Regions from separate parts of the Homo sapiens genome. Here region 2 is linked to region 1. Evidence: fine-mapped expression QTL. Tissue or cell type: whole blood. Region 1 holds a variant in brackets; the other region holds the start of a gene. All regions are shown on one strand. Distances are between the middles of the regions. Region 1 overlaps DENND10 (DENN domain containing 10). Region 2 holds the start of DENND10 (DENN domain containing 10).

The links. PIP is the estimated chance that this variant, and not a neighbour inherited with it, causes the effect.
Region 2: DENND10 starts here. The variant in region 1 is the best candidate, but not a certain one, in a credible set for the expression of DENND10 in whole blood (INTERVAL, PIP 0.87).

What each region holds. Positions count from the first base shown.
Region 1 is chr10:119,123,366-119,127,754 of GRCh38, reverse strand. It overlaps DENND10 (DENN domain containing 10), which reads right to left. Exons shown (of 9, transcript NM_207009.4): 6 at 4,186-4,286. Among named protein-coding and RNA genes, the nearest start is that of DENND10, 21 kb to the right of the region's middle. The variant T/G (reference allele first, on the strand shown) is at 1,775.
Region 2 is chr10:119,101,975-119,106,363 of GRCh38, reverse strand. It overlaps DENND10 (DENN domain containing 10), which reads right to left and starts at 2,251. Exons shown (of 9, transcript NM_207009.4): 1 at 2,167-2,251. The coding sequence starts at 2,221. RefSeq lists an enhancer at 42-541 and a silencer at 1,683-2,462.

The sequences.
Region 1 (4,389 bases):
GCCCTTTGGGAGGCTGAGGCGGGTGGATTGCTTGAGCTCAGGAGTTCGAGGCCTGCCTGGGCAACATGGCGAAACCCCATCTCTACTAAAAATAAAATAAAAAAAAAAATTAGCTGGGCATGGTGGCACATGCCTGTAGTCCCTGTTACTCGGGAGGCTGAGGCACAAGAATTGCTTGAACCTGGGAGATGGAAGTTGCAGTGAGCCAAGATCACGCCACTGCACTCCAGCCTGGGCAACAGAGCGAGACTCTGTCTCAAAAAAATAAAATAAAATAAGATAAAACAAAATAATTTAAAAAACAACAAAAACAAAACCTACTACTGAGAGCCAGACCCAGGCCCACCCATGAATGAGAAAATGTGACAGATGACAAGTAATATTACTCATTACTGAAAAAAGAAAGAGATTATTCAATAAATGTCCTGGTCCAAGTGGTTATCCATAGGGTAAAAAAGTTCAGTCAGATCCCAAACTCACACACTACACAAAAAATTATTCCAGATAAATTAATAACTTCACTGGGAAATAAAAAACATTAAAAATGTTTAGGCCAGGCACAGTAGCTCACACCTATAATCTCAGCACTTTGGGAGGCCAAGGCGGGAGGACTGTTGAGCTCAAGAGTTCGAGACCAGCCAGGGCAACATGGTGAAACCTTATCTCTACCAAAAAAAAAAATACAAAAATTAGCCAGGCATGGTGGCACGTGCCTGTAGTCCCAGCTACTTGGGAGGCTGGGGTAGAAGGATGGCTTAAGCCCAGGAAGTGGAGGTTGCAATGAGCCGAGACTGAGCCACTGCACTCCAGCCTGGGCGACAGAGCAAGACCCTGTCTCAAAAAAAAAAAAAAGAAAAGAAAAAGAGAAAGAAAAATTTTCATAAGAAAATGGCCAGGCACAGTGGCTCATGCCTATAATCCCAGAGCCCAGGAATTCAAGACAAGCCCAGGCAATAAAGCAAGACTTTGTCTCTAAAAAAAAATACAGACGGCTGGGCGCAGTGGCTCACGCCTGTAATCCCAGAACTTTGGGAGGTCAAGGCAGGTGGATCATCTGAGGTCAGGAGTTCGAGACCAGCCTGACCAATATGGTGAAACCCTGTCTCTACTAAAAATACAAAAATTAGCCAGGCATGGTGGTGGGTGCCTGCAGTTCCAGCTACTCAGGAGGCTGAGATAAGAGAACTGCTTGAACCAGGGAAGTGGAGGTTGCAGTGAGCTGAGAGCATGCCACTGCACTCTGGCCTGGACAACAGAGGGAGACTCTGTCTCAAAAAAGACAGGCAATAACAAACGATGGCAAGAATGTAGAGAAAAAGAACTCTCGTACACTGTTGGTAGGAATGTAAATTAGTACAGTCACTATGGAGAACAGTATGGAAATTCCTCGAAAAACTAAAAATAGAACTACCATATGATCCAGCAATCCCACTGCTGGGTATTTACCCCCAAAAAAGGAAATCAGTGTATCAAAGAGATACCACCATTCCCATGTTCACTGCAGCACGGTTCACAACCACCAAGATTTGGAATCAAACTGAGTGTCCATCAACAGATGAATGGAAAAGAAAATGTGGTGCATATACACAGTGGAATATTATGCAGCTATAAAAAGGAATGAAATCCTGTCATTTGCAACAACATGGATGGAACTGGAGGCATCATGTTAAGTAAAAGAAGCCACGGACAGAAAGACAAATTTTGCATGTTCTCACTAATCTGGGGGAGCTAAAAATTAAAACAATGGAACTCAGGGAGATAGAGAGTAGAATGG[T/G]GGGTACCAGAGGTTAGGAAGGGTAGTGGGGAGAGGGGGAAAATTTGGGATGGTTAGTGGATACAAAAATATAGTTAGAATGAATAAGACCTAGTATTTGATAGCACAATAGGGTGACTACAGTGAATGATAGTTTATTGTATATTTAAAAATAACTAGAAGTTGGCTGGGCACAGTGGCTCACACCTGTAATCCCAACACTTTGGGAAGCTGAGGCGGGTGGATCACCTGAGGTCAGAAGTTTGAGACCAGCCTGGCCAACATGGTAAAACCCCATCTCTACTCTCTACCAAAAATACAAAAAAATTAGCTGGGCATGGTGGTGCACACCTGTAATCCCAGCTACTCAGGCAGCTGAGGCAGGAGAATCGCTTGAACCTGGGAGGTGGAGGCCGTAGTATGCTGAGATCGTGCCACTGCACTCCAGCCTGGGCAACAGAGTGAGACTCCAACTCAAAAAAAAAAAAAAAAAAAAAAAAGAAAACTAGAAGTGGAATCACAATGTTCTTAACACAAAGAAATCATAAATGCTTGAGGTGATGGATACTGCAATTACCCTGATGTAATCATTATACATTGTAGGCCTGTATCAAAACATCATATGTACCCCATAAATACATATACCTATTATATACCCATAACAATTAAAAAGTTAAGATGAAAAAAAAAAGTCACTGATAAACTTTTAAGACTAGAACTTTACAAGTTCGGCCAGGCACAATGGCTCATGCCTGCAATCCAGGCACTTTGGGAGCCTGAGGTGGGTGGATCACCTAAGGTAAGGAATTTGAGACCAGCCTGGCCAACGTGGAGAAACCCTGTCTCTACTAAAAATACAAAAATTAGCTGGGCATGGTGGCAGGTGCCTGTAATCGCAGCTACTAGGGAGGCTAAGGCAGGAGAATTGCTTGAACCTAGGAGGCAGAGGTTGCAGTGAGCTGAGATCACACTATTGCACTCCAGCCTGGACAACAAGAACAAAACTCCGTCCCAAGAAAAAAACAAAAACAAAAAAAAACTTTACAGGTTAAATAGTTAAATATAGGTTGCATTTTTTAAATTTTATTTTATAATTTAAAAATTTTAAAAGACAGGTCTCCTATGTTGCCCAGGCTGGTCTGGAACTCCTGGGCTCAGGCGATCACCCCACCTCGGCCTCCCAAAGTGCTGGGATTACAGGTGTGAGCCACTGTGCCCAGCCAAAAACAGGCTGCATTTTGATGATGGCTGAACAACAACGTGAATGTACTTAATGCCACTGAACTGTATGTTTACCAATGGTTAAAAAGGTAAATGTAGCTGTGCGTAGCAGCTGACACCTGTAATCCCAACAGTGTGGGAGGCCAAGATGGGCAGATCGCTTGAGTTCGGGAGTTCAAGACCAGCCTGAGTAACACAGGAAGACCTGGTCTCAAAAAAAAAGGTAAATCTTTTTTTCTGGAGACAGAGTCTCGCTCTGTCGCCCTGGCTGGAGTGCAGTGGCTCAGTCTCAGCTCACTGCGACCTCCACCTGCTGGGTTCAAGTGATTCTTGTGCCTCAGCCTCCCGAGTAGCTGGGACTACAGGCACCCACCACCACACCCGGCTAATTTTTTTTTTTTTTTTTTTTGGTATTTTAGTAGAGATACGGTTTCCCCATGTTGGCCAGGGTGGTCTCAAACTCCTGAGCTCAGGCAATCCACTTGCCTCAGCCTCCTAAAGTGCTAGGATTATAGGCATGAGGCACCGCGCCCGGCCAAAAAAAGGTAAATCCTATATGCATTTTACCACAATTTTTTTTTTTTTTTGAGACGGAGTTTTGCTCTTGCTGCCCAGGCTGGAGTGTAGTGGTGTGATCTTGGCTCACCGCAACCTCCGCCTCCCAGGTTCAAGTGTTTCTCCTGCCTCAGCCTCCCAAGTAGCTGGGATTACAGGCATGTGCCACCATACCCAGCTAATTTTTTGTATTTTTAGTAGAGACGGGGTTTCTCCATGTTGGTCAGGCTGGTCTTGAACTCCCGACCTCAGGTGATCTGCCCACCTTGGCCTCCCAAAGTGCTGGAATTACAGGTGTGAGCTACCGCTCCCGGCCACAATTTTTTTTTAAACTAAAAAAAAAAAAAAAATTTAAGGGCAAAAAATTGATTGCATGTGCCAAAGAAATAATAAAGGATCAGTATCCCACTTGGGAATGCACAAAATAAAAACAAAAAACCCTCTTTAAAGTGGAATAAAATTAGCCAGGCGTGGTGGCACATGCCTGTAATCCCAGCTACTTGGGAGGCTAAGGCAGGAGAATTGAAGGCGGACGTTGCGGTGAGCTAAGATCGTGCCATTGCACTCCATCCTGGGCAACAAGAGTGAAAATCCGTCTCAGGAAAAAAAAAAAAAAAAAAGTGAAACAGTTCCTCCCCTGGGATCCTCTTGTCTACCTGTGCACATCTGCAGGGCTTCCAGCTCATCGGCGTTGAGGTGCACGTAAGAGTGAAGGATGGTCCAGTCCTGTCGGTGCCACACCAGGGCAGGCAGAGTCCTGGGGAATCAAGGCAAGAACTCAAGTTGTTGCTGGTCCACACCTTAAAGACTCAGCCTGCCCCCTTCTCCTCTTCCTGAGAAGGAAATGAAGAGGGTAGAGT
Region 2 (4,389 bases), 21 kb after region 1:
CTAAAGACTACAAATAAAAAATTGTTATTGAAAACAGAATTACCATTCCACCCAGTAATCCCATTACTGGGTATCTGCCGAAAGGAAAAGAAATCATTATACTAAAAAAGACACTCACATTCTGTTTTTTTTTCTCTCTCTGAGACAGGGTCTAACTCTGTCACTTGGGCTGCAGTGCGGTGGCGCAATCTCAGCTCACTGCAACCTCCACCTCTGATCTCAGCTCACTGCAACTTCCACCTCCCGGGTTCAAGTGATTCTCCTGCCTCAGCCTCCTAAGTAGCTGAGATTACAGGTGTGCACCACCACGCCCAGTTAATTTTTTGCCTTTTTAGTGAAGACAGGGTCTCGCTATATTGGCCAGGCTGATCAACTCCCAGCCTCAATTGATCCACCTGCCTCAGCCTCCCAAAGTGCTAGGATTACAGGCATGAGCCACCACGCCTGGCCTCTTTTTTCAATTTCTTTTTTTGAGACGGGGTTGGGGGGGGTCTCACTCTGTCACCCATGCTGGAGTACAGTGGCATGATCTCAGTTCACTGCAACCTCTGCCTCCTGGGACCAAGCAATCCTCCCACCTACAGGCACACCACACCCGGCTAATTTTTGTATTTTTTGTAGAGACACGAGGGTTTTACCACATTGCCCAGGCTGGCTGCAAACCCCTTTTAAATGCACGTTAGTGTGAATAATTAAAAAACTGCTGAGTTCAAAATATGATCATATGTCATCTTTTTATTTGCTATTAGTAGATAAAGACAGTTTAACTTAGCCTTAGTTCAAAAGTACCTTCTGGAGAAACTAAGTTACTTAGGTTTTGTTTTGAAGCAGTTTGAAAATCACATTAGAAATAAATACAGTAATCCACCTGGACAACATGTCGGTATCCCATCTCCACAAAAAATACAAAAATTAATCGGGTGGTGGTGCACGCCTGAGGTCCCAGCTACTCGGAGGCCGAGGCGGGAGGATGGTTTGGGCCTGGGAGGTGGAGGCTGCAGAGAGCGATGATTGCGCTACTGCACTCCAGCCTGGATAAGAGGGAGACCCCGTCTAAAAAAAAAAAAAAGAAGAAAGACAAAGAAATAAAAACAGTAAGCGATTCCCACATAAACGCACTGCTTTGAGGCACTGAAAAATAATCAGCATATTTCTTCAGTTTTGCTAAAGCCTAAGCAATGTTATTGCGCACTTGGGGAATAGAAAGAGTTTAGGGGTGTGCAAAAATCTCGGGAAAATAAAACTTTTTCGAAGGGAACCAACGGGTTCCATCCCCTAAATACTGCACGAGGCTGCCCAAAGATCCCCGTGTGATATTTTTTAATTATGGAAGATAATTACATTCCTCAGAGCTAACCGAGATTCCACCACACAGGATTGTGTAGAAACTCCTGCTTTATTTATGCACAAGCTCGATCACATGATGCAGGAGCTCTCCACTGGTGGGGGTTGGGGGCTCTGGGATACACTGCGAGGGTCCCACTCCCGGCTCTGTACGGCCTATGGTGTGTCCGTGCACAATGACGGCCTGGGCCTCCATTTGCTCCTCCGTGAAGTGGGCGTCAGACGTTTCCCACGGCCCCTCGGTCCTTGGTGAGAGCTAAAAGGAGACAATGTGTGTACAACGCGCAGCACCCGGCCCAGCAGTCTCCAGCTGCCCGGTCCCACGATGGGGGCCGCCCGGGCGGGCAGTCACCCGTGGCTCCGAGGCAGCCGCCCGCCCCCGGCTCGGGGGAACCGGACCCTGCCTCCTCCCCGCCGCGCCGCGCCGCGCCGCCAGCCGGCTGCTCCCGCCCGGCCCGGCCCCGCCCGCGCAGCGCCCCTCGCAGCTGCCCAGCCTGGGAGCGCTCGACGTCCCGGCTCCGCCGGGCAACCCGGGGCGTGCAGGGGGAGCTCCACCCCGGAATCTTGGAGGTCCCCGGGCTCCCTCGGGCCGGGCAGGCCCCACAGGCGGCCGCGGGCGGGCGGGCGAGGGCGGCGGGCCGGGTCCCCTGCACCAAGGAGGCCGGGCTCCGCAGTCCCCAGTCCAGGCCCAACAGGGAGGGGGCCGCGCCCTCCTCATGCGGTCGGCGCCGGGGGCCGCGGGAGCCCGGGCTGCCCCGGGCCGAGGTGGAGCAGAGGCAGAACCAGGGTGCGGGCTTCCAGGCAGGGCGCCTACGTCCTCACCGATCAGCCCGACTCCAAGCATCAGCTGAGTGTCCGCCACCTCGGCCGCAGCCATCTTCCGCCGCCGCGGCGCGCAGCTCTGGCTGCCGCCTGCAGGACCGGCCTCGCACCCGAACCCCGCCCCGCCCGCCGTAGGGCCCGCCCCCATCACAGGCCCCGCCTCCCTCCCCGGCCCATCATAAGCCCCGCCTCCCTCCCCGGACCATCACAGGCCCCGCCTCCCGCTGTAGGACCCGCCTCCCTCCCGCCCCGCCCCATCACAGGACCATCAACCCCCCCCGTCGGCCCCGCCCCACCCGCAGGCCCACCTATTCCAGCCCCAGTCCTCCCTGCCAGGACCTGCTCAGTGCAGCTCCACTCGTCTTCTGCCCGTGGCCCTTCGCCCTTGGAAACCTCCTTGAGTCTCCGCAGCCTGCCTCAATTTCTCTAATCCAGCTGTTCATCCTTCTTCTTCTCAATCCACTCCAATCTTTCTTCCCGTCGTAGGCTTTCCTTGTTCTACCTCTGCCCTCTGGTCAAGCTCAAAAGAACAGGTCACCTTGTTCCTAAAAAGAGGCGTCCTGAGGATGGAGGAAGGGTCTCCATCCATTCCTTCATCCAGCCACCCCCAAAACAAAACAAAACAAAAATTGAGGGCCTAATAAGGCACTGGGGATACCTTATAGGGCTGAACAAGACAGAGCAGTCCACTGGGGAAGACAGACAATTGGCGAGTAGAATAAATAATCCAGGCCAGGTGAGGTGGCTCACGCCTCTGATCCCAACACGATGGGAGGCCAAGGCAGGAGCATCACTTGAGGTCAGGAGTTCGAGATCAGCCTTGGCAACATAGTGAGACCCATCTCTACAAAAAAAATTTAAAAATTAGCCAGGCATAGTGGCATGCACCTGTAGTCCCAGCTACTCTCAGGCTGAGGCAGGAAAATCATTTGAGCCCAGGATTTTGAGGCTGCAGTGAGCTGTGATCCTGCCACTCACTCCAGCCTGGGTGACAGAGTGAGACCCTGTCTCAAAAATAAATAAATAGATAAATAGATGACAGATAGATAGATAATAGTAAAAAAGCTCAGAATGATATGTGCCCTGGAGGCAACGATATGTGCCCTGGAGGCAGTGTGTTAGAGAGTGGAGGTGTGCTGCTCTAAAATGGGTGTCAAGAAAGGCTTCTCTGAGAAAGGGATATTTGAACTGAGATCTGAATGATAGTAACGACTCAGACATTGGAAGATTTGGCTCCAAGATTCCTCCTCTGGATCTACTGTCTGCCCCAACCCCAAGTCACACAGAGCTAATTAGGGAGGGTCCTTGGTGTCTGCAGGAATACAATCCCACCCTCATCTTTTTTTCTTTTTTCTTTTTTTTTTTTTTTTTTTGAGATGGAGTCTTGTTCAGTTGCCCGGCCTGGAGTGCAATAGCGCGATCTCGGCTCACTGCAACCTCCGCCTCTCGGTTTTAAGGGATTCTCCTGCCTCAGCCTCCTGCGTAGCTGGGATTACAGGCGTGAGCCACTGCGCCTGTTTTTTTCTTTTTTCTTTCTTTTTTTTTTGGAGACAGTTTCTCGCTATGTTGCCCAGGCTGCAATTTATACATTGGAGTATATTTAGGTGTGTATATGGCATTCCTGTTTCTCTCACTAAACTGAACCCCTGGAAGGCAGCACCCTGAACTACGTGCCCTTCTATTCTCTGGGCTTCCTGTTGTAGTATAACTGTTAATGTGTCTAGTTTTCACAGAAAAGAAGCAGGTGTTTAGAGGCTGAGGAGTGGGACACAGATGTGGAATCAGTTTGGAAGCCAACTAGAAACTTGCACTAGGTGGGGCACGGTGGCTCACGCCTGTAATCCTAGCACTTTGGGAGGCTGAGGTGGGTGGATCACGAGGTCAGGAGATTGAGACCAACCCGGCTAAAACGGTGAAACCCTGTCTCTACTAAAAATACAAAAAATTAGCCGGGCGTGGTGGCAGGTGCCTGTAGTCCCAGCTACTTGTGAGGCTGAGGCAGGAGAATGGCGTGAACCCGGGAGGCGGAGCTTGCAGTGAGCCGAGATCACGCCACTGCACTCCAGCCTGGGCGACAGAGCGAGACTCCATCTCAAAAACAAACAAACAAAAAATCACAAAAATTAGCTAGGCATGGTGGCAGGTGCCTGTAATCCCAGCTACTCAGGAAGCTGAGGCAGACTGGCTTGAACCCAAGAGAGGACGGTTGCAGTGAGCCAAGAT